Homo sapiens: one gene and its partner. The protein of the gene in region 1 interacts with the protein of each later gene in a pairwise test. Each region holds a gene or a part of one and is shown on either strand. Other genes may lie near its edges.

The links. The genes of interacting proteins can lie anywhere in the genome.
Region 2: the proteins of TSNAXIP1 (region 1) and UTP6 interact in a two-hybrid assay, tested with the Homo sapiens proteins (one large-scale study listed by BioGRID).

The regions. Positions count from the first base shown.
Region 1 is NC_000016.10:67,824,015-67,828,568, forward strand, and holds the end of TSNAXIP1 (translin-associated factor X-interacting protein 1), read left to right. Parts: intron 1-568; coding exon 569-765; intron 766-1,122; coding exon 1,123-1,258; intron 1,259-1,652; coding exon 1,653-1,822; exon of another isoform or gene 1,823-1,881; coding exon of another isoform or gene 1,882-1,902; coding exon 1,903-2,062; coding exon of another isoform or gene 2,063-2,137; coding exon 2,138-2,268; intron 2,269-2,422; coding exon 2,423-2,548; intron 2,549-2,677; coding exon 2,678-2,830; intron 2,831-2,948; coding exon 2,949-3,058; intron 3,059-3,234; coding exon 3,235-3,361; intron 3,362-3,458; coding exon 3,459-3,565; intron 3,566-3,738; coding exon 3,739-3,979; 3' UTR 3,980-4,054; downstream 4,055-4,554. Other genes in the region: CENPT (centromere protein T), read right to left, coding at 4,253-4,376, 4,460-4,554. UniProt on the Homo sapiens protein: Possible role in spermatogenesis.
Region 2 is NC_000017.11:31,870,709-31,875,315, forward strand, and holds part of UTP6 (U3 small nucleolar RNA-associated protein 6 homolog), read right to left. Parts: coding exon 4,526-4,607; intron 3,046-4,525; coding exon 2,965-3,045; intron 2,780-2,964; coding exon 2,670-2,779; intron 1-2,669. UniProt on the Homo sapiens protein: Part of the small subunit (SSU) processome, first precursor of the small eukaryotic ribosomal subunit.

The DNA.
Region 1 (4,554 bases):
TCGCAAAAAAAAAAAAAAAAAAAGAATGCAGCTCCCCTCCTTGTCCCAGCCTGGAAGGGGTGGAGAAGATCCTATTCGACCTTCTGGTGCTCCACAGCAGGGCTGGGGCAGCTACCAACTGGGCCTTGAGGTCACCAAGGCCCCTCAGCCATTCTGCACAGACTGTTCCATGATAGGGCACCCCAGAGCACCTGACAACACCTGTCATTGAGAAGCACAGGGGGGCAGTCCCTGTTGAAAATGGAGTGAACCCCAGGAGAGAGTCAGCACCTCTGGGAGTCAGCAGGCTCCCCTGCCAGGCTCAGGAGGTGCAGGGCATGGTGCAGCTGCAGGACTTAAGGCTGTAGGGGAAAGGACATAGGAGAGACCCCGGTCTTCATCTGAACTCTGCCCTTTGTTTAAAATCAAGTGCAGGAAGGCCTGAAACAGGGACCATGGCTTTGAACAAGGCATGCAGAGATTCTTGGGGTTTGCAAGCGACATAGCCACTCACCCATGACCTTAGGGTGTCTTCTGGCTGTTTGTTCTCCATGGCCCCAAAGCAGCTCTCCCACCTGTCTCTGCTTAGCCCACCAAAGGGAGAAGATTCGGGCTCTGGAGCCCCTGAAGGCCAAGCTTGTCACTGTGAATGAGGACTGCAATGAGAGGATCCTGGCCATGAGAGCTGAGGAGAAATATGAAATCTCCCTGCTCAAGAAAGAGAAGATGAACTTGCTAAAACTCATCGACAAAAAGAATGAGGAGAAGATTTCATTGCAGAGCGAGGTGAATGGAAGTGGTGTGATGATGACCAAGTCCCCGAATTCCTGCCAACTCCACGACAAGGGTGACCCCCTACCCTGCTCTGCCTTTCTACGGAGAGTGACACACTGAGCCACCACCTTCCCCCAGAGCCTTGCTAACTCCACCCTCTGCCCTGCTGCTAGGCTCAGTACTTTCCCCACAGGGGGAAACATTGGCACCTTGCCGAATTCTCAGAAATGGCCAATCTCCTTCTTCTTTCACCTTTCCTGTTCACAGTCCCTGATGGGGCCCCCCAGAACCCAGCCCACTCCCTGGGGTGACCAGCTGCATACAGGGGTCCAGGGGCAGCCCCTGACCACACAGCCACCTTCTTGCCAGGTGACCAAACTGAGGAAGAACTTGGCTGAGGAGTACCTGCACTACCTCAGTGAGCGAGATGCCTGTAAGATCCTCATCGCAGACCTGAATGAGCTGCGGTACCAGCGGGAGGACATGTCATTAGCCCAGTCGCCAGGTAAGCCTGAATTGGGAATCGGGTTTCTCTCTTCTCTGAGACGCTGGAAGACTCTGGTCTCACCCCTAAGCCCCATTCATTCAGCATTCCTAAGACCTGCTCATTCCATAACCATTCAGAGGGGAGATGTCCCTGCCTCCCGCAGGGCTGTGTATCTTCTGAGTTGAACTGAGAATTGTAGGAACACAGTTGGTAGCTGAGGCAGCCTAGGCTCCCAGTGGGCTGGACAGGCCTGGTACTCAGTTTCCTGGGCTTCTAGACTTTAGCCTGAAACCCTAGGCTGGTAGTGCTGTGGGCAAGAACCAGGGAACCCCAAACAGGAAGGGCAGAGGGCTTCAGGCAACCCCTGAGAAAGCCACGGTGACACGGGCTGGTGGGCCCCTTCCCCTGGCAGGCATCTGGGGGGAGGACCCTGTGAAGTTAACCCTGGCTCTTAAGATGACCCGGCAAGACCTGACCCGCACGCAGATGGAACTCAACAACATGAAGGCCAACTTTGGAGATGTGGTCCCCAGGAGGGACTTTGAAATGCAGGAGAAGACCAACAAGGATCTTCAGGAGCAGGTGCTGGCAGGCAGGCAGGGCCAGGAGGGTAGGACGGGGTCTCACAGGTGGGGGGCCAGGGCCAATGTCCTTGCCCACAGCTGGACACCCTGAGAGCCAGCTACGAGGAGGTTCGCAAGGAGCATGAGATCCTCATGCAGCTGCACATGAGCACGCTGAAGGAACGGGACCAATTCTTCTCTGAGCTGCAGGAGATCCAGCGCACTTCCACGCCGCGGCCTGACTGGACCAAGTGCAAAGGTGAGGGCAGCCGGCAGGGCCCCAGGTCCTGCTTACATGTGGGCCCAGACTCCAGCTCCCTCTCCCCACATGCAGATGTGGTGGCTGGGGGCCCAGAGCGCTGGCAGATGCTGGCTGAGGGCAAGAACAGCGACCAGCTGGTGGACGTGCTCCTGGAAGAGATTGGTTCGGGGCTGCTGCGGGAGAAAGACTTCTTCCCTGGTCTGGTAGGGGAGGCCCCAGGAGTGGGGCTTGGGCCAGAGTCAGAACAGCCATGCCCTGCTGCTCAGACAAGCTTTTGGGGAACCAACTGGGGATCTTCCCTGATTGGGGGTGGGGCCACAGATGGGTCCAGAGATGAGCTGATATCCTCCCTCCTAGGGCTATGGGGAAGCCATCCCTGCTTTTCTTCGGTTTGATGGCCTCGTGGAGAACAAGAAGCCAAGCAAGAAGGACGTGGTCAACCTCCTCAAGGATGCCTGGAAGGAACGTCTTGCTGAGGAGCAGGTCAGATCTCACCAGCCACTCTGGCCCAGCATGGTCTTCAGATCCAGAGTCCTCTGCAGGTCCAGAGGTGACAGGGATGAGGGCCAACCAACCGTAAGACTCTGACTGAGCATTTCCTCGATCCCGCAGAAAGAGACGTTCCCAGATTTCTTCTTCAATTTCCTGGAGCATCGCTTTGGGCCCAGTGATGCCATGGCCTGGGCTTATACTATTTTTGAAAATATCAAGATCTTCCACTCCAACGAGGTTATGAGTCAGTTCTATGCAGTCTTGATGGGAAAGGTGAGCTGGGGCCTATTCCCCTTGGGGAGACTGAGAGGGGTCTTTGTCCCTAGCATAGACCAGCTTTGCCCCCACCACTCCCAGGAACAGCAGGTGAATAATGCTTCTCTCCTTATAGCGGAGTGAGAATGTGTATGTCACCCAGAAGGAGACAGTAGCCCAGCTGCTGAAGGAGATGACAAATGCTGACAGTCAGAACGAGGGGCTACTAACCATGGAGCAGTTCAAGTGAGAGGCCAGTCCAGGCTACCCCCAACTCCTACCCAACTATTCCTGCATCTGTAGGGAAAAGGGGCACCTGGTGGGAAGGGCCACAGCCTCGGCACTCACTCCCTTTTGAGCACTAGGGAGAGGCACAAGCAGGCCTCAGCAGGTCCCTGTTGGCCCTCATGTCTCCCCTACAGCACTGTCCTCAAGAGTACCTTCCCTCTCAAGACAGAAGAGCAAATCCAGGAGCTGATGGAGGCAGGGGGCTGGCATCCCAGCAGCAGCAATGCAGACTTGCTCAACTACCGCTCACTGTTTATGGAGGTGGGTGTGTGGGGTCCGGGGACTGGCCTGGCCCCTGCCCTAGCCTTGGCTGGACCCTACCCAATGTGCCCTCCCCCTGACTTGTGGCCCCTCCCAGGATGAGGAGGGCCAGAGTGAGCCCTTTGTGCAAAAACTCTGGGAACAATACATGGATGAGAAGGACGAGTACTTACAGCAGCTAAAGCAGGAGCTTGGCATAGAACTGTGAGTGACCCTCATCCATAGGCGAGTCCCACAGGCTGGGCCCCTGAAGCCCCTGGGTCTCCCTGTGCACCATGCACCATCCACTGCTCAGCCCAGCACAGAGGAGGGCACCTGGGAGTCTGGGGCACGGAGAGGAGGGGTCAGGGCCTGTCACTCTCTTTCCTGTGGGGCAGCCATGAGGAAGTGACTCTGCCCAAGCTGCGAGGGGGCCTGATGACCATCGACCCCAGCCTGGACAAGCAGACAGTGAACACCTACATGAGCCAGGCCTTCCAGCTCCCTGAGTCGGAAATGCCAGAGGAGGGTGACGAGAAGGAAGAAGCCGTGGTGGAAATCCTCCAGACTGCCCTGGAGCGGCTTCAGGTGATTGACATCAGGCGTGTGGGACCTCGAGAGCCAGAGCCTGCAAGCTAGGAACTTGTGGGCAGCCTGCGTACTCCAGTCCTGCTAACCCCTAGCTTTTAATATAAAAGTGTTTGTCTGAATCCATGCCATTCTCCAGACTGTGCTGGGGAGTTGTGGGGGGGAATCAGTCCCTGCCTGGCTGGCCCCAGGACATGCACCAAAATGCAGAATATTCTGTTTATGACACTTTATTGATGCTGGGGGGGTGGGGAGGAGACCTGGAGAAATATGTGGGGGCAAGAGTCCCCAGGTGGGGACAGGGAAAGTGTTGAAGCCTGGCCACTACTGGGCAGGGAAGACAGAGTTGCCACTGTATGCACAGGGGATGAGCAGCTGCCGGTACTCCAGGGGCAGGTGCCGCTCCACTAGCACGTGCAGTGAGACTTGGTCAGTGACCAGGCCCTGCCTGCAGTGGAGGAAGAGAAGGGACAGGCAGAATCAGCACCAAAACTCCCCCAGCCAGCACCCCCACACCTTCCGCCTTCTCACCGCCGCATCAGCAGCTCCAGGTCCTCTGGCTTCACAGTCTTGCGGCCAGCATGAGCAGCAAATACCTCCAGATCATCACAAAGATGCTGGAAATA
Region 2 (4,607 bases), on another chromosome or scaffold:
GAGACAGGGTTTCACCATATTAGCCAGGATGGTCTCGATCTCCTGACCTCGTGATCCGTCTGCCTCGACCTCCCAAAGTGCTGGGATTACAGGCATGAGCCACCGCACCTGGATGTTTTTGTTTTGAGACAGGGTCTCACTCTGTCACCAAGGCTGGAGTGTACTAGCACAAACACGGCTCACTACAGCCTCAACCACCTGGACTCAAGTGATCCTCTGACTTCAGCTTCCCAAGTAGCTAAAATCACAGGCACATGCCATGACACCCAACTTTTTAAGTTTTTTTTTTTTTTTTTTTTGAGATGGAGTCTTGCTCTGTCGCCCAGGCTGGAATGCAGTGGCGCGATCTCAGCTCACTGAAAGCTCCGCCTCCCAGGTTCACGCCATGCTCCTGCCTTAGCCTCCCAAGTAGCTGGGAATACAGGCGCCTGCCACCACGCCCGGCTAATTTTTTGTATTTTTTTTAGTAGAGACGGGGTTTCATCGTGTTAGCCAGGATGGTCTCGAACTCCTGACCTTGTGATCCGCCCGCCTCGGCCTCCTAAAGTGCTAGGATTACAGGCATGAGCCACCGCACCCGGCCTTTTAACTTTTCATAGAAATGAAGTCTCGTTGTGTTGCCCACGCTCGTCTCAAATGCTTGGGATCAAGCAATCCTCTTGTCTCAGTCTCCCAAAATCCTGAGATTAGAGGCCTTGAACCACCGTGCCCAGCTCATATAGCTATGTTTAATAAATGATGTTTATAAAGAATTTTTGGCTGGGCACAGTGCCTCATACCTACAATCCCAGCCCTTTGGGAGGCCAAGGCAGGAAGATCACTGGAAGCCATAAGGTCAAGATCAGTTTAAGCAACAAGGCGAGACCCTGACTCTGCAAAAAAATTTAAGAATTAGCGGGGCATCGCCAGGCATGGTAGCTCATGCCTGTAATCCCAGCATTTTGGGAGGCTGAGCTGGGCAGATTGCTTGGGCCCAGGAGTTCAAGACCAGCCTGGGCAACACAGTGAAACCCCATCTCTACTAAAAATAAAAAATTACCTGGGTGTGGTGGCACACACCTGTAGTCCCAGCTACTTGGGAAGCTAACGCACAAGAATCACTTGAACCAGGAAGGCAGAGTTTGCAGTGAGCCAAGATGGCGCCATTACACTCAGCCTGGGCAACAGAGCAAGACTCTGTCTCAAAGAAAAAAAAAATATTTAGGCCGGGCACAGTGGCTCACACCTGTAATCCCAACACTTAGGGAGGCCGAGGCGGGCAGGTCACCAGAGGTCAGGAGTTCGAGACCAGCCTAGCCAACATGGCAAAAACCCTTATCTACTAAAAATATAAAAAATTAGCCGGGCGTCGTGGCACATGCCTGTAATCCCAGCTACTCAGGAGGCTGAGGCAGGAGAATCGCTTGAACCCGGGAGGCAGAAGTTGCAGTGAGCCGAGACTGTACCACTGCACTCCAGCCTGGGCAACACAGTGAGACTCCATCTCAAAAAAAAAAAGAAATTTTTTTTAAATCATAAATAAAATTACAGTTATACTATAATCTCAACTACATAAAAACAAATTTTAAAATTATGTGTTAACAGTAATTTTTCCTTCGATGATGTAATAAATTATCATGGTTATGTTTTCCCCCACCACAATGAACTGCTTTTATTGTTCAAAAAAAAGAAAAAGAAGGCCAGGCATGGTGGCTTACACTTATAATCCTAGCACTTTGGGAGGCTGAGGCAGGAGGACTGCTTGAGCCCAGGAGTTTGAGACCAGGCTGAACAATGTTGTGAGACTCAGTCTCTACCAAAAAAAAAAAATGTTTTAAGTTAGCTGGACATGGTGGTACATGCCTGTAGACCCAGACATTTGGGAGGCTGAGGTGGGCGGACTGCTTGAGCCCAGAAGGTCAAGGCTTCGGTGAACCATGATTGTGCCACTACACTCTAACCTAGGTGACAGAGCGAGAACCTGTCTCAAAAAAGAAAAGGAAACATTACTTTTTGAAAAAGTTCACTGGAGGCCAAATGCACTGGCTCATGCCTGTAATCCCAGCACTTTGAGAGGCCAAGACAAGCAAATCACTTGAGATCAGCAGTTCGAGACCAGCCTGGCCAACATGATGAAACCGTCTCTACTAAATTACAAAATTAGCCGGGCGTGGTGTCACACATCTGTAATCCCAGCTATTCAGGAGGCTAAGGCGGGAGAATCACTGTCTCAAAAAAACAAAAAAAAAACAAAAAAAAAGGAAAATGAAACAGTGTATTGGGTCAGGTGTGGTGCCTCATGCCTGTAATCCCTGCACTTTGGGAGGCTGAGGTGGGCAGATCACCTGAGGTTAGGAGTTTGAGACCAGCCTGGCCAACATGGTGAAACCTTGTCTTTAAAATCTAAAATTTAAAAATTAGCCAGGCGTGGTGGCAGGTGCCTGTAATCCTAGCTACTCGGGAAGCCGAGGCAGGAGAATCACTTGAACGCAGGAGGCGGAGATTGCAGTGAGCAGAGATTGTGCCACTGCACTCCAGCCTGGGCAACAGAGCAAGACTCCATCTTAAAAAAAAAGAAAAAGTGTATCAGATTACTCCCTCAGATGCTATCTGTGATTCAAATAATCTGGGTATGAGCGGCTGAGCATGGGGTAGAGGGACTAGTAACAACTATGAACGTCTGTGAGTACCTTTTAAACACAGCTCTGGCCTTTTTGTAGCCACCACTTCGATAAGCCCAATCCAGGTACTTATTCTTCAGGGTTACTGAGTCGGCACCTATGACAGCTAAGAGAGCTTTCTACAATTTAAAAGAAAAAAGAAAGAAGCTATGTGAGAAAACTTATAGATACCAAAACAGATTTTCCCAGAACCACCTGAGGCCACTCCATAGTGCTTTAGGCGCACCTGCAACACTAGAGCTGACCAACCAGGGAACCTTCTGCCATTCCCCACACCACAAGACTTGGAACACGGAGCCTATACCTTAAAGACTGCCTCAGTGTCTTCTTGGCTTTTGGCACCTTCACTCCACTCTGCCCAGGAAATCCACAATGGCAGACAAACCTACTCCCAGTTTAAAAAATGTTAGTTAGAGAACAGCATATAACAAAACATCGCATGTACCCTATAAATATGTAAAATATTATGTATCAATTTTTTTATGCTATAAAATGACAGTTTAGTCCTATGCTCTGAAAACTAGTTAAAAAGGCAGGTTCCTCCTAAGATAATCAACATGTAAAATAGGGATTCATTCCCAAACAGTCCTCATTGTGACAGAATTCTCATTGCCCAGCAGGAATGGCACTCCAGAACACAGCCAGCCTTCTGACCAAGTCACTCAGAGCAACACTCTTCTGTGAATTTTAGTTCCTTTCTATTGGGAAATATTTCATGTAGTTATCATCAATCATCTTTTAGTTAAGTAAGTAATTAACAGCCCACACAGTTAGACCCACAGCTACCCAGGTCATGTCTCTGCTGTCTAAGACCCACAACACAAGAACTAATTAATCTAGGCTGAACTATCTGATCTTCATTCATGTCCCAGAGGTACGTACAAATGAGCAGCAAAAGCGAGGCATGGTGGCGCACATTTGCAATCCCAGCACTTTAAAGACGGAGGCAGGCGGATCACTTGAGGCCAGGAGTTCAAGACCAGCCTGGCCAACATGGCAAAACCCTGTCTCTACTAAAAATACAAAAATTAGCTGGGCATGGTGGTGGGCACTTCTTATCCCAGCTACTTGGGAGGCTGAGACAGGAGAATCGCTTGAACCTGGGAGGTGGAGGTTGCAGTGAGCCAAGTTTGCACCACTGCACTCCAGCCTGGGCAACAGAACAAGACTTCATCTCAAAAAAAAGGAAAAACCACCAAATGAGCAGTAGTTTTTTTCCTACTTTATCTTCTGGAATACGTTTTACCTACTAATATAAAAAATTCACTGCAAAGTGAATCTGGCCATACACCGTGGCTCACGCCTGTAATCTCAGCACTTTGGGAGGCCAAGGCGGGCAGATCACTTGAGGCTAGGAGTTCCAGACCAGCCTGGCCAACATGGAGATATCCTGTCTCTACTAAAATAGAAAATATTAGTCAGGTGTGATGGCATGCGCCTGTAGTCCCAGCTACTCGGGAGGCTGAGGCAGGAGAATTGCCTGAACCCGGGAGGCAGAGATTGCAGTGAGCTGAGATCACGCCACTGCACTCCAGCCTGGACAACAGAGCGAGACTCCATCTTAAAAAAAAAAAAAAAAAAGGTTGGGCTTATATTCAGCAAGTGACATTAATATTCTACTGGTATTTCTAACTTTATAAGATATCTAAATAGAATAGGAAGTTTTATTTAATTTGGTTAACTTTCAAATAAAGGATATTAAATAGAAGCAAATTCTTCTACTCTTAACCTATGAACCATCACCACTGAATAGCAAATGCCACTCTAGAGTTGGCTCTCAATAGACAAGTACATTCCAAATGAGCCTTGGCTAGTCTTAAAAGGTTTCCCAAATATAATGAATACAAAAGATCCAGCTCACTGACCTGGGGTTTCAGGTGCACAAAGGCTTCTTCAAAAAGCATGGCTATGTCAGGGCTCTTTGACTCGATCAGCACCTGCAGCTTC